Homo sapiens: one gene and its partners. The protein of the gene in region 1 interacts with the protein of each later gene in a biochemical or structural test. Each region holds a gene or a part of one and is shown in the gene's direction. Other genes may lie near its edges.

Region 1 (3,500 bases):
ACCACCTGCCCTCACCCAGGCCAGATGGATACAGGACTAGAAAGCCAGAGGGGAAACTGAGGCCCAGCATGAGAAAGTGGTTGTCTAAGGTTGCCATGGCGTTGTTGGAGTTGGGGTTCACCTCTTGACTCAGCCCTACTTGATGTGGACAGTGTCTCCCATTCACTACGTAACACACATGGAGAAGCTGAGGTTCACAGATAGCGAGTGATGGGCCACAGTGTGAATCAGAGATTCAGACCCAGCTCTGGGAGGCTCAGGCCCCTTCCACCCTCCTCAACCTGGTGGCCCACAGGCCACACACATTTGGCTAGCTCCCTGACACATTTTATTTGGCTGCAGTGAGTTTTTTTTTTTTTTTAAACAAAATGGGGGCCAATATTTTATGTTAGAGTCTGCAATTCCGGCTGCTTTTGAAAAAATCAGAAGAGCTGGCCACATTGAGCCAGAAACCCTCCTAGCAGCAATCAAGCAATCAGCTGGCGTTCTCCTGCAGCTGGCCCTGTCAGAGAGGCCTTCGCTGTTCCTGGTCATCTCACATCTGGCCCACGTTTCCCACACCTGTTGGGCTCTGCAGGCAATCGAACTGCTGCTGTGACCTCAGCTGCTGCAGATGGGGTGTCTGCGAGGTCAAGCAAGACAGGCAGGGGACCGGGGAAGCCCCAGTGTGCAGGGGACGGGGAGTCCTGGGTGCCAGCCCCCTTGCCCCTGCCTCATTTGAGCGTCTGATATCTCTGATGTGGGGCCTGGTGATAGAGGCCTGGGAGCCTCCTTGTCCCCATGCTGCCCTGTGCGTCTCTCAGGCCTGCCCCACTGGCCTAGAATCTCTCCCTCCCGGGCCTTCTGCACTTCTCAGCACTGTGACGTCCTTCTCCCCTTTCTTCACCGGGGGAACTCCTACCTGGCGGGAAGCAACTGGGGCTGGACCCATTGTTGGAGCTACTTGGAACACTGTCCTCCCGCAGCGACCTCACTGCCTCTCTTGGCTCTCCCAGTGCAGGAGCCTGAAGCAGGAGAAGCACGTGTGTCCTGGAACGCAGCAAGGGCGTGCTGGAGCGTGCAGAGGGAAGGCCTGAGGTGCTGTTCTGCCTCAGCTCTGCCTTGGCTGGGCCCTAGAGGCCGTGGACCGCACTGAGGACCCAGAGGCAGTTCTGAGGCAGTGGGACTCGAGACCCAGTGTCCTATTGCTCCCACAGGTGGCGGTGGAAATCGCAAAGGCAAAAGCAAGAAATGGCGGCAGATGCTCCAGTTCCCTCACATCAGCCAGTGCGAAGAGCTGCGGCTCAGCCTCGGTGAGGCCTGGGCAGAGACTGGGGGTGCTGAGGCGAGGGGCCCTGCTGGGGCCGGGGGAGCCTCCCCTGAGACCTTGCCCCGGAGCAGAGGGGCAGACTTGGGGGCTCCAGTGAGCAGGAGGATGAGGACTGCACCATTCAGCCCAGTTTCAGTTCCTGGGCTTGGGACGGGTGGAGAGCAGACAGCAAACAGGGTCACACCGAGGGTGGTTGAAGCGGGTGTCGGGAATAGGGCAGGGGCAGATTGGGGCAGTTGATTCCACTTTGAAAAGGAGAGCCAGCTAGGGTGAGCAGGGCCCACAGGACAGAGGGAGCAGCAGCTGGGCCAGCCCACAGACTGACTGCCTTGGGACCCCCAGGCTGGGGCGTAGCCTCCCAGGCCCAGCCCTGAGGGGTGCCCAGCAAATCCTTGACCAGAAGCCCTCAGCCTGGGCAGTGTGACAGGGTTACTCCTGGGAGGGGACAGAAGGGCCCAGGACCCCAGTTCCTGCCAATCTTGGCCAAGGCCCCAGGTCTGAGCAGCACCCAAGGTTGCTGAGGCCCCCGGTGGCCTGCACGTGCGCAGAGCACACCCGGGCTGCTTCCACCTCCTGGGAAGGAGGCCCAGCTGAGAGCCTGCCGGAAGCCACAGCTTCCTCTCGCACTTTCGCCAGGCAGGCAGCAGGTGTGGGCCTGGCCCCGGCTGGGCTGGGCCGGAACCTCACGGACCGCACCCAACCCCAGTACCGTGACATACGCAAGTCGTGTAAATCAGGAGACAATGCAGGGAGGTGGATGGAGGCCTGGGCTCTGGAGCCAGACTCCCGGCTGTGTGACACTGAGCTAGTCAGTTAGCCTCTCTGGGCCTCACAGCCCCAAAACAGCTGTGCCCACCTGAGGGTTGTGGTGAGGGTTCTGAAGAAGATTGTGGCTACCACACTGCAGAGCTGGAAGCTGTTGTGGGGGCCCAGGGCCTGGTGGTGTGGGCACATGCCCCACCCATGTGCTCTCGGGCTGTGGACCCAGCAGCTTCCATCACTGCCAACAGAGCGTGACTATCACAGCCTGTGCGAGCGGCAGCCCATTGGGCGCCTGCTGTTCCGAGAGTTCTGTGCCACGAGGCCGGAGCTGAGCCGCTGCGTCGCCTTCCTGGATGGGGTGGTGAGTGCAGCCCAGCCCTGCCCAGCCCCGCGGGTGGCCGAGGTCCTGGCCCCATGTGCCCCTCCTCCCCACACCTGCTGCTTGCCCTGCCCAGACCTCCAGCTTCTTTGCTTTCCACCCTGCAGGCCGAGTATGAAGTGACCCCGGATGACAAGCGGAAGGCATGTGGGCGGCAGCTAACGCAGAATTTTCTGAGCCACACGGTGAGTGAGCAGCGATGGAGAGATGATGGGAGCCACCAGAGCCCCGTGTCAGGCACAGGAGTGACCACAGTGTCAGGCTTCTGAGGGTGGTCTCTTCATACAGACACATGTAACACACAGCCTGGACAGAGAGTGCCCTGGAGCTGCTCCAGGCAGCACGGCGGGCATGCAGCCCAGGGTATGGGCTGGGCTTGGGCCAGGCGGCCTCCCAGTGGCTCTGCTGCGCTCTGCCTCATGGGTGGGCAGCAGGAAGGACTTCAGCAACCAGGCTGGCTGGCACACCCTGGCCTGCAGCCTCTCATGGCACCAGCCCGAGTTGCCTGACCCCTCTCCCCTGGAAGTGGGCAGCCATCCAAGGGAGCCCCTGCACTGACCTGTCTGGGGCTTGTTCCCAGGGTCCTGACCTCATCCCTGAGGTCCCCCGGCAGCTGGTGACGAACTGCACCCAGCGGCTGGAGCAGGGTCCCTGCAAAGACCTTTTCCAGGAACTCACCCGGTAAGCCTGTCCCTGCCCACAAGCCTGGAATTATGCCCAGCGGAGGGGGCTTCTGGGGGCCAGGAAGACTGTGAACAGCTCGGTGGCTGGTGAGGGAGCTCAGCTGCCCAGCCCTGGCCTTGCCCCTGCTGTGTGACCTGAGCAGGCTGCCTCCCCTCTCAGTAGCACCCACAGCTTCAGCACAGGCTGTGTGTCTCCCCGCTCAGGGGTTAGCAGGAGGACTGGCCGACGACGATACCTGTGGGCTAAGCCTGTACAGAACGGGAGGCCTGGCCCAGCAAGCCAAGAGCCTGAGGTGTCAGGGGCTGGCGGGTGAGCTGGGCCTGCCTTTCCTCAACAGGCTGACCCACGAGTACCTGAGCGTGGCCC
Region 2 (3,500 bases), on another chromosome or scaffold:
TGGGATGGTCATCAATGCTTGAAGGAAATTGCTGTGGTTGTGATGGGGAGTTGAGTAGAATATAATGCATCTCACTACTAGAGAGTCCATCAGATGTCCCTGGTCCTCCTGGGGTTGTCTGTTATCATATTTAAGAGTTCACTTCCCATCCATTGTGTCCATTTGTAAGAAAGGCTCTCCAAAAGAACATAATAGCAAGTTTACACATACTGTTGAGCCTATTTACCATAGGGATCTCAAAATCATAGGGGTCCTGCCTGTTTTGTTGTGGTTGTTTACATTCTTTGTGTCTATTTCTATATACTGCACAGATTATACCATAAAGCTATTTTGTGATAAGAAGAATTGAGAGAGACTGAAACCAAATCTTTCTCTCGAGCTACAAGTTTCTCTGAAAATAGAAAGAGACCTACCCATATTTTTAAAAAATTACACCTGTTATCCAGTTCTAGCTATAATGGCAACTCATAAAATCTTAGAATTTTAGATTCAGGTTACATGGGGAAAGTGAATATAGTCCTCCCTTGGTATCCATGGGGGTTGGTTTCAGGACCCCAGTGGATATAAAAATCCATTATAAAATGGTATAGTATTTGCATATGATCTATGCACATCCTCCCATATACTGTAAATCATCTCTAGATTTCTCATAATACCTAATACAATATAAATGCTATATAAATTGTTGTTATACTGTATTTTTACTTGCATTATTTTTTATTGTTGTATTGTGTTGGATATTTTCCCCTAATATTGTCTTCCGTGGTTGGTTGTATCCTGGATGCTGAGTGCGCAATAGGGAAGCCTAACTATTAGAAACCAGCTGCTATGTAACATTGGCCTCTAGGAAAAAGTGTCTCCTGGTCAAACAAGTTAGGGAAACCCTGTGTCCTGCATCTTCCTCCTTCTGGATATTAACAATGAAAAGTCAACTGTAACTCAGCATTTTCCAAACTTACTTGACCACCGAGTCTTTTTTACCCTATATAATAGCTGTTAACATCCTGCATGTAGGAAATGAGTCCAGTCACACCGTGGAGGTCCAGAAAATTAAGCCACTTGCCTGAGGTCACAAAGTCAGTAATGACAGAACCGGGGCGGGACCCCACTGCTGGCTGATAGCCTCTCTCAGAATGGCTTCAAAAGGTGTTCAAGATTATGTTTCTTTGAAATTGATGTAAAGAGTGATTTCTAAAGTTGTAGGATCCTAGTTTAATTTGGAGAGATTTATCTGTTAGCAGATGGAAAATGTGTCAGTTGGCCCATTCAATTTAGTAGTACTCTTTATTCAGATGCATCAGAAATGGGACCTGAATCGTATGCGTGGTGGAGAACAAAACGTTCCTGAGGCGCTCAGTGTGAGGGGTGGGAACGGAGAAAGGCAATAAGCAATTAAACAAGTAGATATGTAATTACAAATTATGATGCGTGCTATGTATGTGCTGTCAGATTGAACTTAAATTTGCAGTCTTTTTTTAATTGACCCAGAACTAAAAGGAATCAATAGCAGTTGTTTTTATGGTTATCTGAATACTCAGCTCATAACGACTGTTTGCACCACGTGACAGCCTCTCCCCTTCTTGTTTTTCCAGCCCAGTGGAGCAAAATGAGAGCGCAGTGAGCCGGGCCCAGCTTCTCTCCTAGCCGTTCCGACTCCCACCATGAACCACTTGGAGGGGTCTGCGGAGGTGGAGGTGACCGACGAGGCGGCAGGTGGGGAGGTGAACGAGTCGGTGGAGGCCGACCTGGAGCACCCCGAGGTGGAAGAGGAACAGCAGCAGCCGCCGCAGCAGCAGCACTATGTGGGCCGCCACCAGCGCGGGCGAGCCCTCGAGGACCTCCGCGCCCAGCTCGGCCAGGAGGAAGAGGAGCGCGGGGAATGCCTGGCGCGCTCAGCCAGCACGGAGAGCGGCTTCCACAACCACACGGACACCGCCGAGGGCGACGTGATCGCCGCGGCCCGCGACGGCTACGATGCGGAGCGCGCGCAGGACCCCGAGGACGAGAGCGCCTATGCTGTGCAGTACCGGCCCGAGGCCGAGGAGTACACGGAGCAGGCAGAGGCCGAGCACGCCGAGGCCACGCACCGCCGCGCGCTGCCCAACCACCTGCACTTCCACTCGCTGGAGCACGAGGAAGCCATGAATGCGGCCTACTCAGGCTACGTCTACACGCACCGGCTCTTCCACCGCGGTGAGGACGAGCCCTACTCCGAGCCCTATGCCGACTACGGCGGCCTCCAGGAGCACGTGTACGAGGAGATAGGGGACGCGCCCGAGCTGGACGCACGCGACGGCCTGCGGCTCTACGAGCAGGAGCGCGACGAGGCGGCCGCGTACCGCCAGGAGGCCCTGGGCGCGCGGCTGCACCATTACGACGAGCGCTCCGACGGCGAGTCCGACAGCCCCGAGAAGGAGGCCGAGTTCGCGCCCTACCCGCGCATGGACAGCTACGAGCAGGAGGAGGACATCGACCAGATAGTGGCCGAGGTGAAGCAGAGCATGAGCTCGCAGAGCCTCGACAAGGCAGCCGAGGACATGCCTGAGGCCGAGCAGGACCTGGAGCGTCCCCCTACCCCGGCCGGGGGTCGCCCCGACAGCCCCGGGCTGCAGGCGCCGGCGGGGCAGCAGCGGGCGGTGGGCCCCGCGGGCGGCGGCGAGGCGGGGCAGCGGTACAGCAAGGAGAAGCGCGATGCCATCTCGCTGGCCATCAAGGACATCAAGGAGGCCATCGAGGAGGTGAAAACCAGGACCATCCGTTCGCCTTACACCCCCGACGAGCCCAAAGAGCCCATCTGGGTCATGCGCCAGGACATTAGCCCCACCAGGGACTGTGACGACCAGAGGCCGATGGACGGAGATGTAAGTAGGTGCGGGTTTGGGCTTCCTCGGCCCCACGCGGTGGGAGGGAAGATGGCGCCCCATGGCCTTGTGTGCCCTTGGGTAGTGACTTTACGGGAAGTAGTCTGTGGGGACGCTAAGAACTTTTCCACCGTAAGCCTCAGAAACAGCTTGCACCTAAACTGTCAAACGCCAGCGGGAGAGAATTAAAGTGTTGAATGCACTCATCAGATTCTTAGCAGGATGGCCTCAAATCAGTGCTTCCCACACTGTGCCTGGAGACCTTGTGAGAAATGCATTATTGGGTACATCGCCCTCCACCCCCCGCCCCCCCCCCCCCCAGTTTCTGATTCAGAAAGTATGGAGTGGGGCCCGAGAATTTGTATTTCTAATGCCAAATAAAAAACAAGCCATGCTTGAGGAAGGAGAGACTTCACTGGAAAGGATTATTGCAAAGGGGAGAAAGATACTGTTTCGTTTTAGGGAGGAAGGACTGTTGCCATATGAGAACCTCTGACCTTAAGATCTTTAAGGGTCTCTAGAGTTAGGTACAAGGGGGAAGTTGTTTTATAGGGAGGAGTAGCCAAGTAGAAAGAATAGGGTATGTGAAAGTGGCATGAAAAGGGTGGGAGTTGAATGTGCTGTGGATCAGAGAATGTT
Region 3 (3,500 bases), on another chromosome or scaffold:
TATTGCTTTTAGAACTCAGAATATATGCTTCTAAAGTGATATATTGAGGGGAAAGTCTCTTTTCATTCTATATTAACCCTCAGTTTCGTGCTTCACTGGTTCATTGATGATAAATTTGTATAATGATAGCCAGAGAGCCCACAGTTGGTTCATCTCCTGAACCACTGCTGACCAAAAACAAAACAAAACAAAATATTTCTTTTACCTTTTGTGGAATAATTAATTCTCTTGTATATTCTTTTAAATATGATTCATGTTGCTATTCTAATAATTCTTTTCCTCGTCAAATCATAGATTAATTTTATTTATGATTATAAAAAATGAAATTTTTCAGAACCTTTACTATAGTGCCTGTGTGTCTTAGGTTTCAATACAGATGTCATTTACTGGAAAATCATTTAGAAACTCTTGGCCCAGTAGTTATGTTTCAAGAGATGCAAAAGCTAGCATAGCTGAAAAACTTAAACATGGTTTGTTTAGCAGTTGCGTTTTTAAAACATTAATGAGACTGATTTTTGAATATTCATTCAGACATTGGGTATTATACAGAAACTACAAGAATTATCATAGTTTAAGGAAGATTTTATAAAGAAAAGGTAAGATTTGAATAATAAGAATATTGTTAATAAGTGCACCAGGTAAAATTGCATTATTTACTTAATTTTATTTACTTGTTTGCCTAATTTTACATTACAGTTATCATAATTTTCATCTGTCATAATTTTAAAAGGAGGTGAGCTCCTTTTAAAATGTTGGGATTTTAAGACATTATATATATATATATATATATGTATATATCTCACAGTGTTTCTACACTGTTTAAATACCTGCAAAACAATTTTTAAAACTGTTTAATGAAATTCAAGGAATTATCTTTTTAATTTAAGCTTTCTGCTTTTAATCCACACAATAATAAACCACATATTAAAATATGGCTTATTGTCACATCCAATTCTTTTTTATAAACTATGGCATTTTATTTGTAATAATAAACTTTCCTCACCAAAGTATGTAATTCTAAATTAGCAGTAATTCTATGATCTCGTTAATGCATCAGACCCAGTTGAAGAAAGTTTTTTGAGTGATGTTGAGATCTATATGGAAGTGCTAAAGGTCTTCTTTCCTTTTTCTTTTCCCTTTTTTAAGGTTTGCCACTAAAGTTCACAGCAGCCAGTTACACAGGCCTTTGTGGCCTACATTCCTTGCACTATGGCTGCTATTGCATCTAATACCACATAGAGACCTACATAACCTGGACTTATTTTCCCATTTAGGGTCTCACAATGGGAAATAAAAGGCAAAAAAAAAAAAAAATTCTAATTCTTCCCATGTGGAAGATGGGCCAAATAAATCCTTTGAAATTCAGTTTTAGAGAAGATCTACATTGCTCTCCCTCCTACTGCTCCTTTCAAAGATACCTTCAAAGGAAAGTAGATCCACATTTATTAAGAGTCATACTTTCTTCTTGACTGACTTCAGGCTTAGAATAATAGAGTCAGATCTCTATACTCCTTTGTATCTGAAAAGGTAAAAACAAATTATGTCAAATTTTCTGAAAATAAAGATTGACTTTTTTTCTGTAGAAATGTGAGGTATATGAATAGTGTTGTTTAATAAACAAAACATTGTTTAAACATTTTGATCAGTTTATTATTTTAGAAATAAAGTACCATTAATGTTTTGAACAAGGTTAATGAGACGGTTCTCTTGGGGCATAATTTATAAGTGATACCACTGTAGTTTTCTGGTACATGTAGATAATTTAAATGGTATGACCTCGAATGTTAAATATGATTATTTGCTTTTTATCTGTACTGTCCCTATTCTTAACATTTACACTGTTTAATCTTTTGGCATGTTTATTATGCTCACTTTCCTTTTCATTGCTTGTAACTCACAAATTCACTTTCATAATGAGAAAAGCATATTCACATTTGACATCTCTGATTGATTATAGTTTAATTAATGACTTTCAAATACATACAGACCCTGGCAGAATCATTTTCCTCAGAAGGTGGGGTAGAGCAATGGTTAAAGGTACAGTCTCCTAAGTAGACCACCTAGTTTTAATTCCTGAGTATGTCAGTTAGTGCTAGCTATATGTACAAGATAACTAACCTGGGGTAGTAATGGCACCTTAAGAATATTAGATAAGTTATGTATTTAAAGTGTGTAGTGTCTGGCAGGTGATAAGCATTATGTAGATTTTAGTAAATGCTATTGCAAACATATTGGTCATTTTGAGCTAGTGACATTATGAGGTGTTTTTAATTTTCAAGATATTTTACTCAATTCAAATTAACTGAAAAATATGAAATGATTGACATTAATATAGAGTATTTTGCAAGTTGTATTTTAAGGTTTTTTTGCAGAATGAAATAAATATTTTATTTGAAAAGAATTTATTTGAAGAATAATATCAATAAATACAATGGAAAATATTTTCACTTTTTAAAAATAACTTCCACTGATCCTCCCTTTATGTGTAAACATCTGCTATTTTATATTTATTTTATACTTTAGACATAGTTTATTTTTACATAGTAATTTGTTTTCTTCATACCGCATATCTTTACTCCCAAAGAATTGCTGAATATATTGAATTATTTACTCTAAACTTGACAACATAGAAATCCTATTAGAATTTATTAAGTTTAGGAGTTTATACTTCTTATATTAATACATCATTGTAGTTAAGAGTAAGTATCATGCTGTTGAACTTTTACTTCTCAGCTAGAAATTAAGCACCTCATAAAGAATAACAATAATAAAAGTTAACTCTTAAGTGTTCACAGTCAACAATGTATAATAAAGAGGAAATGCATCAAATTCAGCAAAAATAATACTTTGCATTTGTGAGTATTGCAATGTAAATAAGTTAAAAGGCTATTTGTATTGCATTTTATAGTATTTTATACTATACTATTTTATAGTATTTTATGGTACTGTTAAAATACCATTAAATTTAAATACTATTTAAATACTATTAACGTACTATAGTACTATTAAAATACTATTTTATAGTATTTTCATACTTTGTATGAAAGAAATGCAATATAAGTAAGTCTGTGTATTAATACTGTTACAAGGTGAAGCAACCAACAATACTTCCACTGCTAGCTTCCCCATAATTTTAGCATTTTCGTTGAATTAATCCTATTTTACAGTTCAATGGAAACATCTACCTTGAAGCTCCAGGGTTCAGTATTAATTTCTAAAAATCTCTCCTAGCTATAATCTGGCTATATATTATGACAACAAACATACAACTGCCTTAGTTTAGTGACTTTATTATTACTTACTCCATTCTATTCTCAGCTCTCTTCTGTCTCTAGTAAGTATTTGTTATATTTCCTTTAATAAAAGTAAATTATCTTATATAGAAAACTTAGTAATATAATAATTGCTGAATTTACATTGTTAAAGACTTGCATAGGGACATACATAGTACAATGTCCATATCATCATAGATAATTAATAAAAATTGCTTTTATTATTAC
Region 4 (3,500 bases), on another chromosome or scaffold:
TCTGGAGAGTATGGGAATTTTAGACAGGCAGCAGGGTCTGTCTCTGTTCTGAGTGGTTCTACAACCCGGGAACAGAGCTGCCTGCTATCCTGGGCTGACTGCAGACGGTTCTAGAACAGTGGGCAGAGCTGGCCAGTTCTAGATTGATGGAGGGAATTCCAGAACCAAGAAGCAGGGGTCCACTGTGGTTCTAGAATGTTGTGGAGGTTTCGAAATTGGAGTGGGGGGTGGAGCGTCGTGGCTCACGCCTGTCATCCCAGTACTTTAGGAGGCCAAGGCGGGTGGATCACTTGAGGTCGGGAGTTTGAGACCAGCCTGGCCAACGTGGCGAAACCCCGTCTCTACTAAAAATACAAAAACTAGCCAGGCGTGGTGGTGGGCGCCTGTAATCCCAGCTACTCATGAGACTGAGGCAGGAGAATCGTTTGAACCCAGGAAGCGGAGGTTGCAGTGAGCTGAGATCACACCACCGAGCTCCAGCCTGGGCGACAGAGCGAGACCGTGTCTCAAAAAAGCAGGAGTGGGACTGTCTGGTTCCGGCCTGATCATGGAATTCTGGGGACACGGGGTGAAGGTATCTGTGGGTGCTAGATCTGGCTTTGAATCCAGCCATGGCCTGGACTCACTGGTTTCCCACCTGCGAGTCCTTGAGGGATGGACAGAAGGTTCTAGACCTGTGAGGGCCAGGCTGCTTGGATGGTTCTAGAACAGTGGGCTGTGCTTCCTGGCTGGAGAGTGCTAAGCCACCAGCTAGAACACTGTGTCTCCCGGCCATCTCGGAGAGCGTAGCCCTGGGGCAGAGCCTGTGGGAGTGGGCCCCTGGGGGCCGACCCTCTTCGCTGTCGCCCTCAGTGCCTGGTCCCTGTGACCATGAAGACCTCCTGGACGGTGTCATATTTGGGGCCAGGTACCTGGGGTCCACCCAGCTGGTGTCGGAACGGAACCCGCCCACCAGCACGCGCATGGCCCAGGCCCGGGAGGCCATGGACCGCGTCAAGGTGAGGGGGCGGCCGGGGCCGGGCGGGCAGGCGGGTGGGCTGCAGGCTGGGTCTGTGGGGGCCTCCACCTCCCACGCCGCCACCCACAGGCCCCCGATGGGGAGACCCAGCCCATGACGGAGGTGGACCTGTTCGTCTCCACCAAGAGGATCAAGGTCTTGACAGCGGACTCCCAGGTACGGGGCAGGGACCCGCCCCAGGGATGCGGGTGGGGTGATCGAGCCTGGCACGGCCCCCCAACCCACCCAGGCTGCCTCTCCCGCCCCAGGAGGCCATGATGGACCACGCCCTGCATACCATCTCCTACACAGCCGACATCGGCTGCGTGCTGGTGCTGATGGCGCGGCGGCGGCTGGCACGGAGGCCGGCACCCCAGGACCACGGCCGCCGCCTCTACAAGATGCTCTGCCACGTATTCTACGCGGAGGACGTGAGCAGCCAGGGCGCGGGGCCACCCTCCTGAGGCCCTCCTCACTGCAACTGTCGCCTCCCTCAGTGGGCCGTGCATTTAACCTCCCTCCCATAAGCTTATTTTTAAATTCTTTTTTTGGGACAAGGTCTCCTTCTGTCACCCAGGCTGGAGTGCAGTGGCGCAATCATAGTTCACTGCAGCCTCAACCTTCCAGGCTCAAGCGATCCTCCCACTTCAGCCTCTCTAGTAGCTGGGACCACCGGGGTATCACCATGCCTGGCTAATTTTTGTATTTTTTATAGAGACACGGTCTCGCTCTGTTGCCCAGGTGAACACGGTCTCAAACTCCTGGGCTCAAGCGATCCACCCACCTCAGCCTCCCAAAGTGCTGCAATTACAGGCGTGAGCCACCGCGTCCAGCCTCCTATAAGACTCCAAGACTCTCGGCCGACTCCCCGAAACCTTGCCCGCTCCTGGGCTGTCCCTGCCACCCATGAGGCCCCAGGCCCCCTGGCTGGGTCTTTGATAGCTTTTCCCACAGCCCATGCGCAGGGAGCTGCCTCCCTCATCGTCCCCCCAGCCCAGGGCTGCCCCTCCCCTTCCTTCTCCCCGTAGATTCCCCAAGATGCGGCTGTCTCTCCACCTCCCCCAAAGCCCCAGGGCAGAAGGCTGTGTCCTGGGACTCTCACCCCAGGTGGGGACAGGAGGGCTCAGCTCTGAGGACCCTGGGGACTTTGGGGACCTGGAGGAGGTGGGTGGGACACCCCAGGGACGCGCCACTCCTCCCCGCAGGCCCAGCTCATCGCCCAGGCCATTGGCCAGGCCTTCGCCGCCGCCTACAGCCAGTTCCTACGGGAAAGCGGTATTGACCCCAGCCAGGTGGGCGTGCACCCGAGCCCAGGCGCCTGCCACCTCCATAATGGGGACCTGGACCACTTCTCCAACAGTGACAACTGCCGGGAGGTGAGTGAGGTGCTGGGCAGCCCCCACCTGGTGCCCCCCACACCCGTGCACCTGCACCGGGCCCTGCTGAGCAGCCTCCGCGCCCCCTGTGTGTCCCAGGTGCACCTCGAGAAGCGGCGAGGGGAGGGCCTGGGCGTGGCCCTGGTGGAGTCGGGCTGGGGCTCCCTGCTGCCCACAGCCGTCATCGCCAACCTGCTGCACGGGGGGCCTGCTGAGCGCTCGGGGGCCCTCAGCATCGGGGACCGCCTGACCGCCATCAACGGGACCAGCCTGGTGGGGCTGCCCCTGGCTGCGTGCCAGGCCGCTGTCCGCGTGAGTTTCCTGGTGTGGCAGGGCCCCCACACTCCCAGGAAGGGGAGCTGAGTCCCAGAGAGGTCTCCTCCCTGGCCAGGTCTCTCCAGCCCAGCCAGGAGGGACAAAGTCGAACTTTTAAGTCCTGCCCACTGGTGTGCCCTTGGGGAAACTGAGGCCTGGAGAAGGGAGGCCACTTGTCCAGGGCACCTCCCTAGTACCAGAGCCAGGATGGAAATGCGGGTGGCCCAGCTCCAGGGCTGGGCCACTCTCTCTCTCTAACAAGAAACAGCTAATTTCTGGGGGGGTTTGTTTGTTTGAGACAAGGTCTCACTCTTGCCCAGGCTGGAGTGCAGCGGTGCACCTGGCTCATTGCAGCCTTGACCTTCTGGGCTCAAGCAAATCTCCTTCCTCAGCCTCCCGAGTAGCTGGGACCACAGGTGTGCACCACCACGCCCAGTTTATTGTTTTATTTTTTGTAGAGATGGAGTCTCACTATGTTGGTTGGCCAGGCTGGTCTTGAGCTCCTGGCCTCAAGTGATCCACCTGCCTCGGCCTCCCACAGTGCTGGGATTACAGGTGTGAGCCACTGCACCTGGCCATGTTTTTGAGTCTCAACCTTTGTTGCTCAGATGGGGAAACTGAGGCCCAGAGATAGGGAGGGACCTGCCCCCGTCAGAGGAATGAGGCCACAGTCCGTGCAGCCTCTTACAGATGTTTGCAGCCTGCCTGGAGAGCCCGGCTGTCGGCTTGGCTTTTGGCCATAAGGAAGCGATATGGCTCGGGTCAGACAGCTTCGACCCCATGCCCACCGGGCCCGAGTCTGTTCTCTATCA
Region 5 (3,500 bases), on another chromosome or scaffold:
TAATTATGTCTGTCCTCATGCATCAGCCAGAAACCCAGAGACCTATGAGGAGAAAAACCTCAATAGTCTACTTCATGCTTTTAAGCAGAAGTCCTTAGTGAAAGACATTAGATTATTGAAAAAAGAATGGTCAGTGCTGCTACATTTTCCATCTGCTTCATTTATTCAAGTAATTAATACTATTTTAGACAGAATTACTTGATCTCTTTAATTGGAATTTCTTTCCCATTATTTGATTACATATAATTATAAATCAAAAATCTTGCTGTCTCTATGGAGTTGAGTAATCAATAAAAGAAAATAATTATTAAATATCCAAAGGAAAAAGTTTTATTAATTAAGAGCTAAATATATTTGCACATGAAAATGTAGTTTAAAAAAAGAAACTTTACAAATCTTATTTACTTTTTCTTTAGAACTTAGAAAAAGTAAAAAGATATATTTCTAATGTCACTGGAATCTTTTCCATGAAATCTAAAGTTTAGTCAAGCTTGGTTTCTTTCACTCATCATTATTTTAAAAATTCAATTTTACTCTATGTTAATATTTTTTAAATTTTTAAATTTAAGAGATGAGTCTGAAGATATTTCATTAGTTGTATTACTTTAGGAAATGGATAGATATTAGAAGGGAAATGGAGTATTGATGAGAATGTTATTTTACTTTGATCAGTTAAACACTGAGATTTATCCTGACGATGATGTTTGGGCAACTGGGTCAGACCCACACGCAAATATGAAATGATTAAATAAAAATGCAATCAGCAGTGGCCTGGGAGCATTGCCTGGTGAGAGATAATACTGCAGCTCTCTAATTGGCTCGCGGCAAGCGTGCAGGATGACGGATTTCAGTTGTGGTATTGCCAGTCCTTCTTCCCCCAGCACTATTATCTCAGAGTGACACTTCCATTACTCTGAGCGAAGAAAGATGAACGTCACCTGTCAGGAGCTGGTTAATTGTGTTGCTAGATGTATGTTGCCAGGGCGCAGGTTGGACATTTATGAACATAACTGCTTCCTCTGATGTCCGCCATCCTTCACGGATCGATATGGCTCTTACAGTAAGCGCGTAATTGAGTGAAGGCACTTTGAGCTGAGGGGCTGAAGATGAGCCCATTGTGTGAGCTTCATTGTCCATACATTTACCATAAATGAGCTGATATTTGCCATTTATTGTGTGCAGCATTGTGGAAATGGAAACTAATGTGCCACTCTCATTTGTTTTCTAGATAAATGGGGAAGATGTCCAGAATCGAGAAGAAGCAGTGGCCTTGCTGTCTAACGATGAGTGTAAGAGAATCGTGCTGCTTGTTGCAAGGCCAGAGATTCAGGTCAGAACAGAGATCAAAAGCCTTGAGACTGAACTTTATATTCATTGAATTCACTGAATGTAAATTCGTGAATGAATTATATTCATTATCTGCTATTCTCTATCAAATCATTATCACGGTTATCTCTCCCCATATAACCCACCAGATGGCCTATGTGGGAGTGAATTTTAAAAATAGATATGAAAGCAATTAAGGTATACAAAATACAATAAAGACTGATCTTTCCTAATTTATCAAAAGTATTACACATTAAAGACTTCCTTATATTGCTCCATAGAATGGCAGCTAAATATCCCTTTTAAGGGGGGAAAAGCATACCAAATTGAATTGTGATTCTCTCCTTCAATTTGCCACTTACTTAAATAAATACTCAAATGAAAAATGGCTGTGTGGATCCTTTTAATTCTGTGTGGATCCTTGCTTTAAGTTTCCATCTGAAAATACTTAAATGGCATATGAAGATATCTTGGAAGAAGCTCCACGAGAGAAACACTAGCCTATCTAGTCATCAACTTAAATCTTTTTAAAATAACTTTATCAATTAGAATGTCTTGTATAGCATGATCTGGTTCCATGTATAGTAAATGAATTGTTTCCAAGTTTAGTGTGACCAAAACAATTGTCCAGCCAAAAACTGATAACTTCTAAATGAATTTTTTAGATCTTTATGGAAGAAGATGTCATGAAAGTAGAGTAAAGGTAATGGAAAAAAAGTACTATTGGGGCTTCCTTTTATATCCTTTTTATCTCCCATCACAAGGCAGAAGGGACAAAACATTGTCACCAGTCTATCTATCTGTCAGTAGTTTGAATAAAGTTAGTTATATCGCCATTTGTCTCCTCGGTTATTGATATGATATTTTTCAGACTCAGTAACTACATACTATCTATAAATTACATTGAGTAAGTGTATTTCAGTGTCAGACTGAATCCTGACTTGAATATAGTGGTTATAAAAGATCACCCTTTCTGCATATATTTCGTTTATGCCCTTGCCCATTCTAAATGGTTCTCATAAAGTCTGCCATAGCCTGGGGCAGAGTAAAGTTACACACCTGAGGTCTTAGGAGTGGGGAAAAAAGCCCACAAAACCCCCACACTGCCTATGTGGGAGTGAATTTTTAAATACATATGAAATTATACCAATTATCTGGAAATTTCTCAACCCAGTTATCTCGCTGCTCCCATTTTCTTCAAAAAAGAACATAATAAAGGGGCTAAATGCATATTAGTGAAATTTATGATAAATTGAAGTTGCCATCTCTATTGTAGAGAAGATATTTTTATGTTATAATGTGGTTTCCCTGCCCTTTCCATGTAACTGCTAGAGAACCTCATTAATTTAGAACTAAAGCATTTCCTTAAACTATGCCACATAGTGGCCATAATGGGCTGTAGAAATAATAGAAATTAATAACATAGACCAGATCCTGTTAATCTTTGATGGAATACATATGCTGGGTAGAACCAGTGGAAAATTTGAGTATCTGGCTACACTTCTGACCTTTTTCTCCAAAAGAGTCAATGCTGAAGGATGAATTTTCAAATGAGACTTCCCTTTCCACATTTGATGAAAGATGGTTGTCTGACTCCATAGGATGCTGTCCTGCCTGTCAAAATTATGATCTGCATTAGCCCCTTGATCCTAAAGAAACCTTCATGACACTGGAAGGAAGCTAATTGCCTATAGAAAAAAAAAACAGATTTCCAGAGAAATCAGGAAAAGAAATACATTTTAATACCATACTTTTAAAATGTAATTTAATCAGTACATGCTATAAAGTGGCAAAAAAAAAACTAAAAAAAAAAAATCTTGTCTTTATATCACCCATATTTTTCCATTGAACTCAATTTATCTCATTGTTGTATGTTTTTTTTTTGCGTGTGTATTTTATTCGGGGAGAATGTGGAAGCTTTTGTGTGCTTTTTCTAGCTTTTTTTAAACATTTTTAACGTTTCAAATACTCTCTAGATTCTTGGAAATGATCTACAGAGTTGCTGGGGGCAGTATTGTACATCTGTGCAATATTTTTAAATAACTCATTTTCCTCATTTCCTGTCAACTCTCTTTCATTTTCTGCCCATTTTCTTCCTGAGACCATTAAAGATATTGCTTTTCTGTCCTATTTCCCTCAGGACACTGGGGCAGAGAGGATTCTCATAAGAACTT
Region 6 (3,500 bases), on another chromosome or scaffold:
TTACAAATCCTTTTAAAGACACACTGAATTTGAAGAAAATTTAGACTAGGGTATTGTTAATTGAAAAGCTGCTTTTTTTTTTCTTTCTGTTTTGAACTTCAATGAAATACAAAGTACAGTCCTAGAGAATAGTGAACCATGTTCTAGGTTTTCTACTTCTGTTAATGTGCCTAATTCATTTGCAGAGTGAGAGTAGAAAAAGCTTTAGGCACAGACAGGAACCTTGAGCTTCCTGCCTCTACCACCTGTCACAAATGAATTTGGATGAAACTATTTTCATGATCCCTTTCAGCACCAAAATTTGGGGTTTCTTTAAGGTTTAAGACGAACGCATTAGAGTAATGAAAATGCCTGTCTGACTGGGATGTTTATATTTTTCATGATTATGTCATTTCTTTGCCTTGGCCTATAGTAAGTTTGTATGTGAATGCTTTGCATGAGGGTCATAGCTACTTGGTTTACCTTGAAATCAATGATTCAGAAATTGCTTTTTGTGTTCCAGTTGCATGTAGCTGTGACTCCTTTTAAAAGTGTGGTAACAATGTGGTAGGAATTTAAAAGCTTCCCAACTTTAGACATAGATTATTTTGATCCTTTCTGAACTGGATTCATAAACTTTGGTTCCAAAGAACAGCAGCTGTAGAAGGGAGCCAGATCTTGACTCACTGTTGAGGTTCTGCTTCTTGAGAGATTTCATATTTAGTGCAACCCAATTCCTTGGTTCGTTCTTCTCCCCCAGTACTAGATAGCCAAGTTGGGTGGTAGGAAGGAAGAAAATATGCAGCAAGTCGAGTCTAGTTGTCATGCTCCTTTGGGCCAGAAAGGACCTTAAAGATTGTCTCGTCATGTTGTTCCTATACCTTTTGTTTTCGTCTACCTGTAAAATGAAAAAAAAAAAAAAAAGCAAATATTAGGGATTGTCAGATATGTCAGCATTTAATGTTGCTACATAAGTGTGTTTAAAATTGACAACAGCAGTTACTACCTATTGTCAATGCATTTCGTCAAAATCCTTTTGATGTACCAAAAAAGAGAAAAGGTGGGGAAAGGGGGAAGAATATGTATGCTGTCAGACTTAAAGGAGAGTTCTTCCTATCCAGAGAGGAGCTGTGTTAAAATTACCCCACTCGTGGATTTATATCTATCCCCACACAGACACTTTTTTCTTTTGCATGGGTCAATGAAAAATTCACTAAGGACCGGGGTTTAGAAATCACTGAGTAGCTCAACTAACCCTTCTTTGATATTTGGATCCTTTTATATAATCTCTGTAAGTGGTCTTCCGGTAATACCTGAACATTGCAAGTAACGGGTGGTGATTTCCACCTTTTAATGGTTTTGAGTACTAGAAAGTTTTTTGGCCTATAGAATTGAAATCTGATTCTGCTTGTTTATTCAAATTCTACTGCCTTGGTGGCCTACAGAACAAATCCTTCAGTCTCTGTCAGAGTTGGGCTCTTGGTGTAACGTGACCCGTGAACATGACCTGTGTAGAGTACAGCAGGAGTGTCTTGTCATAGGTTGCATGTTGCTTGCACTGATGTAGTCCAAGTTTGCATTTACTTTTCTGGTGGCCAGACTCAACGAGTTTCCTTTTCGCTAAAACCTGCCGAGCCGTTAATCACATGCTGCCATTGAACCTCGTCTTTCCATCTTGCGCTGATGTCATTGCAAAACCTAACATTTATTGCGCTGTGGTTTTGCTTTATTTTAGCTGATTCTTTCCATCATGCTTTTTAGAATTTGATTATATTATTTGGCACCTTTACCTGTCCTCCCAAAGAAATGCTGTCTGTACATTATTAGATCAGACTCTTTTATATCTTTACTTAAGCCGGTGATGAAATTGTTAAACTGGCTGAACAACACGAAGTGTGTCTCTGGAAGCTTCCCTCGAGGCTTACAAGGAGTCACACTCTCGGTTATAGTTAACTACTAATGCTCTTCATATCTTATAACTAGCCCATATAGCTCCACCTTTCCACATGGATATCCTGAAAGAGTGTGTCAAACCTCCTTTGCTGGTTCTACTGACCAAGTTATGCTGAGTAATAATGAGTTCATTTTCAGTGTGTCCCTAGTAACGAGCACTCTCTTCTGCATATGATTAAGAAAATGTGTTAAATGACTGACTGGATTGAGACACTAGGGTCACACTGTGATCTGTGACCTCCGGAGGCCTTAGGAACTGCAGTGCTTCTAGGAAAAATCAGAATATTGTTGGACTTTCTTCAGCTTATTTTTTGGTTTGGTATTCTCTTGTGTTGAATTGCTTTCAGATAGTGGGGAAGAACACCACAGTCTCTTCCGGTTTTGTTTTAATTGGTTGATATACTTCTCTTCCTATTTTACTAATAAACATTTAGCCAAAAGGGGTGTCTTGAACTCTGCCCATTAGATTACTCCATATTTTTCACTTCTACATATTTGCTTAATCTTCTGAGAAATATCCCCATTTAGTTGAGTTCCTCAAGAAATCAGAACAGTCCGAAGTAAGCTATCTGGTAGTTTATTCAAACTCTTAAGTAAAAATATCTAGGTAAAGAGCCAGTGTTAAAAATTGTTATTGTGGAAAGTAAGAACTCCTGGGTGAATAAAAGATTATGTCTGCTGAGATGAACTATTGTGTGGAGTTTTAAAAGAAAGTTCTGGTTAATGCTTAAGACATAGTGTCCTGTGAAGTCAGCATAACTACTTTCACTGTCTTCTGGAGGTGGTTTTGATAACACATTTGGTTCCTTGTTGAACAGTGGGTATTCACATTGTTCAGGAATAGCTTTGGGATACTGTCCTCTCCGTATTGAAGTTTCTAATAAGTAATTTTAGGAATTATAGTTTTGATTCTTTGTACAGGGCAAATGCTACCTGTTTCAGGTGTTTAAATGGCCTAATGCAAGAAACAGTGGTTTCTTTTTAGCAGGTTCTCAAGGTTCTCAAACTTTTTTCAACGTGCATCCCATCTATACACAATTGTCTAAGTGTTCATGTATGTATGCGTATACATGTATACATATCTGCATGCACGTTTGTGTGTGTGTATATGTATAATATATCTGTATGTATAAACATATACTTTACTGTGCTAAGATATTATGGACATAAAACAAATGTACATTTTAAGAAGATTAATATTAAAAATAAATAGATGTAGAAGTATTTTCTCTGCATCTCAAGGGCATTTGTATCTTTGAAATGTGTGGCCCCTGTGTAGAGACCACTGTTGTACTATCACTGGTTAGAGTTTATAGCAGTTGAGAAATGGAATTTCTAGGGAGCCTGTAGGGTCTTGTGAGGCAAGCGGAAGACAAACTCCACTCTTGATGGGCCTTATATTTACTGTGTATTTATTCTTTTTCCCGAAGACATTTCTGACTTTGGCCTGTTTTCTTCCAGAATTGCTTGTGGGTCTTGGTTTGGGGTTTCATTTATTGAGGGGTAGGAGGTTAATGTAATGGCGATGCTATTCTCCTTAGAAAGTTTCTAATTGAACTCAGCTGTTT
Region 7 (3,500 bases), on another chromosome or scaffold:
AAGTTGGACTGGAATGTCCCCAAATATGGTAGAGCAAATAGCACATCTGCCAGAGAAAGATCCTACACTTTAAAGAGAAGAAGCAGACAACTTCCTGGTGAATTTAGGACTGCTTGATGGTGCGTATGAGTGATGATATATGTCCAAAACAGTTGTATGTACTTTTGAAAATAGATATTTGGCCTAAAGTAGGATTTCATTTGATATTGTTACGTACATTATCAACCCCATATTTATAACAATAAAGGTTTCATTTTTTCTTGTAAATTAGTGTCATGCATAGGAGAGCATTTATATAAGTACAGTTCGGAAATGATATTTAGCATGGTAAAATTGATATACTGTGATTAAATAATTTTAGTGGGATTCCATGTGGGAGAATAAGACTAAGGAGGTAAATAACTACTTCTCGATAAAGGAAACCAGTGGTGAGGAATCCATTGCCTTCCTGTGATACGTTTCCAGAGAAGATCCGAGGTATTCATGTAGTAGGTAGTAATAGATGGATTAGGAAGAATGTTGTATTGGGTTAGGCATTGGGGAGAGTACAGAATAAACATGATTCTGCTCCAGAAGTGTAGGGTCTTAGTTGGAGGAATCTAATGGGAGAAATAACAGAAAGGTTTTACATGTTAAAAATGTTACAGGGATTCTAGGAAAGTAGTGAAGTATAGGGATTAGTTGCTCTTATCATTGAGGTTAGTAAATAAGACACAGAAAGGCTTTGGTCTTGAGATGAGAGGGTGGAAATGAAAGTTTTTTTGATATGAAGTAGAGCTTAAGTCAGTGGTTTTCCCTTGAAAATGGACATGTATAGAAGAGGCTGGGATGTGAGTGGGCAGTGGGTACTGGAGAGCATATTCAATTTGTATATTTCTGGAGTGGAATAGAGGATTTGTGCCCAGGGGAAAAGGTTGGATAGGGAAGAGCAATTAATGGAGAGCAATGAAGTATAGGCTGACTTTTATCTCTTGAAGTTTCCACTTTCCAATAACCCAAGTCACATTTCCTTCTGAGAGTTAACCTCTTCAGTGCAATCTGGGCTTTTTCTAACATGCACCCTAAAACGTTTGTAGCCATTACCTATTACCCAGTTCCAAAGCCACTTCCACATTTTTGGTGTTTGTTACAGCAGCACCCCATTTCCTGGTACCAAAATCTGTATTAGTTTGATAGGGCTGCCTTGACAAAATAACACAGAGTGGGTGGCTGAAACCACAGGAATTTATTTCCTCACAGTTCTGGAGGCTGGAAGTCTAAAATCAAAGTGTTGGTGGGATTGGTTTCTACCAAGCCTCGCTCTTTGGCTTGTAGATGGCTGAGTTCTCCCTGTTTCTTCACATGCCCTCCCTCTGTGTATGTCTATAGCCTAATTTTTTATAAGGGAACCAGTCATATTGTGTTAGAGCCCACCCCTAGTGACCTCATTTAACCTTTATCTCCAAATACAGTTATATTGTGAGGTACAGGGATTAGGATTTCCTGTGAATTTTTAGGAGACACAGTTTAGCTCATAACAAGGTTCTCAAAGAGACTTAGTGTGTAAACTAGTGAGACTCTGAGGCAGTGAGCTCGTATTGGAGGCTAGTGCATAGTCTGAGCATTACTGGGGTAATTTGATGTTTGGCAAGAAAGGGAAGCTGCTATTTGAGGACAAAGGTATTTTATCTTTGGCCTGAGGCCACTTATTTTCTTTCTCTGGATGTTCATTGGGAAATTGTGCCTCTGTGGCCTTTTTGTGGACAGAGCATTAATTTTTTTTTTAAGTGTTTTATAAAAGCATTCGTTTTCTTAAAATATTTCTTTTAATGGTTCTTAAAAATAGTAAAGCGCTAAATTTGGCAAAGCTGAAACACTGTGTTGTAAATGTCTCAGTGGTTTTTGAGTCTGATTAAAACAACAGAATTTATTCTTTAAATTCCATTGATCTAAAAACTGTCTGTCTTATACGTGTTTTGTGGGGTAATGTATGGCATAATCTTTTTTCCTTCAGAAATGTTTCCCCCTTTTGGGAAAATATGATTAATAAAAGGGAATTTATGTTACATAAAATAAAAACTTTTTTTTTTTTTTGTTTTTTAGGTGTTGCAATTTTATTTGTTGAGTTAATGAAACCATTAGAGCCATTCTTCCCAATCTGGCCAGCTAAGTTAAAAATAAATAAATAAATAAAAGGAGACAAACTCTTACTTTTTTTCTTCTGGCCTGTCTGCCTGTGGTGGTTAAATTTGTTTTGTTTAGGGAATTCTTATCTTTATCCACTTTTTAGTTTTATTTGTGTCTGCAAAAGCAACATTCATTGTTATTTTCTTGTAAACCACTCTGCCTCCAGATCCAAGGTGCTATAAATAAGTGCATGAGGGGAAAGTGAAAAATGAAACATTTATTAAAAAAGAAGAAAAAAAACCCAGTAACATCAACTACCAAAAAAAAAAATTAAGAAAAAACTTAATGTTGTTGCTTATGTTTTAAAATTATTTTGATAATAAAATACATAAGGTAATTATTTATTTTAGTAAATAGCACATTTTAAAAGGTATGGAAGATACAAGTGAAAAGAAGACGGAAAGCTTGCCTGTAATTAGATCACCCAGATACCACTCCCACAAGAAAATCCCCAAGACACATATTTTGAAAATGAAGATATTTAAGTTATTTTGATATAACAAATGGATAGAGCAGCTGTTGATCAATAGATTTCACCAATTGCTGCCTTTCTAAATGAGCATCATCTGATCTGAGATTATTAAATGTTATATAATTTGAGTTGATACTAATAGCATTTGTTTGAACTGATGTCTCAGGTCTTTTGAAGAGATATGATACAGTTCACTACCACGTGGCATGTAGGATACCAGTGGAGAACGTATTTTAAAAAATTTTGATTTCTGCTTAAAATTAAGTGTTAATAGTCAATGTTTATACTGATTATATGTTGAAATAATAATTTGAAGAAAGTGGGTTAAATAAAATATATTATTAAAATTAATTTCACCTACTTCTGCTTTTTTCTTTACTGTGGCTACAGACAAAATTACATATGTGGCTCACATGATATTTCCATTGGCCAGAGCTGATCTAGAATGATGCAGATCATCCCCTCTCCAACTCTTGGTGTGTTTGATAATCTGAATTGTAACATATACAGAATGGCAATTATTTGAATAATTTCAGCACCAAATTACTCCTTTGTTAACCAATTCACTATATTGTTAATTTCACAGTAACTTTATATTGTGTACTCAGGTGGCTCCATAGGATACCTTGCTTCAGGGAACTGTCATAGAAAATGGTCATGAGAAGCTATCCTTCTGTGTTCATAAGATATCACTAACGTAACAAAACCATGATGATAGAGTCATAAAGATTAAAGATTATTCTACAATTTAAAAACTCCTTTCCGATATATTTAAGATATGTCCAGTTTCTCTTATACCTTGCTAGGCCCCTGTTTTAGTTCATTTCGGGTGCTATAACAAAATATCAAACACTGGGTCCCT

Evidence for each region.
Region 2: the proteins of GRK6 (region 1) and APBA1 interact in a test that uses a peptide from one of them, tested with the Homo sapiens proteins (one large-scale study listed by IntAct).
Region 3: the proteins of GRK6 (region 1) and MAGI2 interact in a test that uses a peptide from one of them, tested with the Homo sapiens proteins (one large-scale study listed by IntAct).
Region 4: the proteins of GRK6 (region 1) and APBA3 interact in a test that uses a peptide from one of them, tested with the Homo sapiens proteins (one large-scale study listed by IntAct).
Region 5: the proteins of GRK6 (region 1) and PDZRN4 interact in a test that uses a peptide from one of them, tested with the Homo sapiens proteins (one large-scale study listed by IntAct).
Region 6: the proteins of GRK6 (region 1) and SIPA1L2 interact in a test that uses a peptide from one of them, tested with the Homo sapiens proteins (one large-scale study listed by IntAct).
Region 7: the proteins of GRK6 (region 1) and MPDZ interact in a test that uses a peptide from one of them, tested with the Homo sapiens proteins (one large-scale study listed by IntAct).

The regions. Positions count from the first base shown.
Region 1 is NC_000005.10:177,429,676-177,433,175, forward strand, and holds part of GRK6 (G protein-coupled receptor kinase 6), read left to right. Parts: intron 1-1,196; coding exon 1,197-1,292; intron 1,293-2,035; exon of another isoform or gene 2,036-2,261; coding exon of another isoform or gene 2,262-2,319; coding exon 2,320-2,432; intron 2,433-2,557; coding exon 2,558-2,635; intron 2,636-3,030; coding exon 3,031-3,131; intron 3,132-3,471; coding exon 3,472-3,500.
Region 2 is NC_000009.12:69,515,372-69,518,871, reverse strand, and holds part of APBA1 (amyloid-beta A4 precursor protein-binding family A member 1), read left to right. Parts: intron 1-1,592; 5' UTR 1,593-1,661; coding exon 1,662-2,861; intron 2,862-3,500. UniProt on the Homo sapiens protein: Putative function in synaptic vesicle exocytosis by binding to Munc18-1, an essential component of the synaptic vesicle exocytotic machinery. May modulate processing of the amyloid-beta precursor protein (APP) and hence formation of APP-beta.
Region 3 is NC_000007.14:79,447,168-79,450,667, reverse strand, and holds part of MAGI2 (membrane-associated guanylate kinase, WW and PDZ domain-containing protein 2), read left to right. Parts: intron 1-3,500. UniProt on the Homo sapiens protein: Seems to act as a scaffold molecule at synaptic junctions by assembling neurotransmitter receptors and cell adhesion proteins. Plays a role in nerve growth factor (NGF)-induced recruitment of RAPGEF2 to late endosomes and neurite outgrowth.
Region 4 is NC_000019.10:3,751,693-3,755,192, reverse strand, and holds part of APBA3 (amyloid-beta A4 precursor protein-binding family A member 3), read left to right. Parts: intron 1-852; coding exon 853-998; intron 999-1,087; coding exon 1,088-1,174; intron 1,175-1,266; coding exon 1,267-1,428; intron 1,429-2,202; coding exon 2,203-2,373; intron 2,374-2,472; coding exon 2,473-2,685; intron 2,686-3,500. UniProt on the Homo sapiens protein: May modulate processing of the amyloid-beta precursor protein (APP) and hence formation of APP-beta. May enhance the activity of HIF1A in macrophages by inhibiting the activity of HIF1AN.
Region 5 is NC_000012.12:41,562,320-41,565,819, forward strand, and holds part of PDZRN4 (PDZ domain-containing RING finger protein 4), read left to right. Parts: intron 1-1,228; coding exon 1,229-1,330; intron 1,331-3,500.
Region 6 is NC_000001.11:232,623,634-232,627,133, reverse strand, and holds part of SIPA1L2 (signal-induced proliferation-associated 1-like protein 2), read left to right. Parts: intron 1-3,500.
Region 7 is NC_000009.12:13,273,193-13,276,692, reverse strand, and holds part of MPDZ (multiple PDZ domain protein), read left to right. Parts: exon of another isoform or gene 1-119; intron 120-3,500. UniProt on the Homo sapiens protein: Member of the NMDAR signaling complex that may play a role in control of AMPAR potentiation and synaptic plasticity in excitatory synapses. Promotes clustering of HT2RC at the cell surface.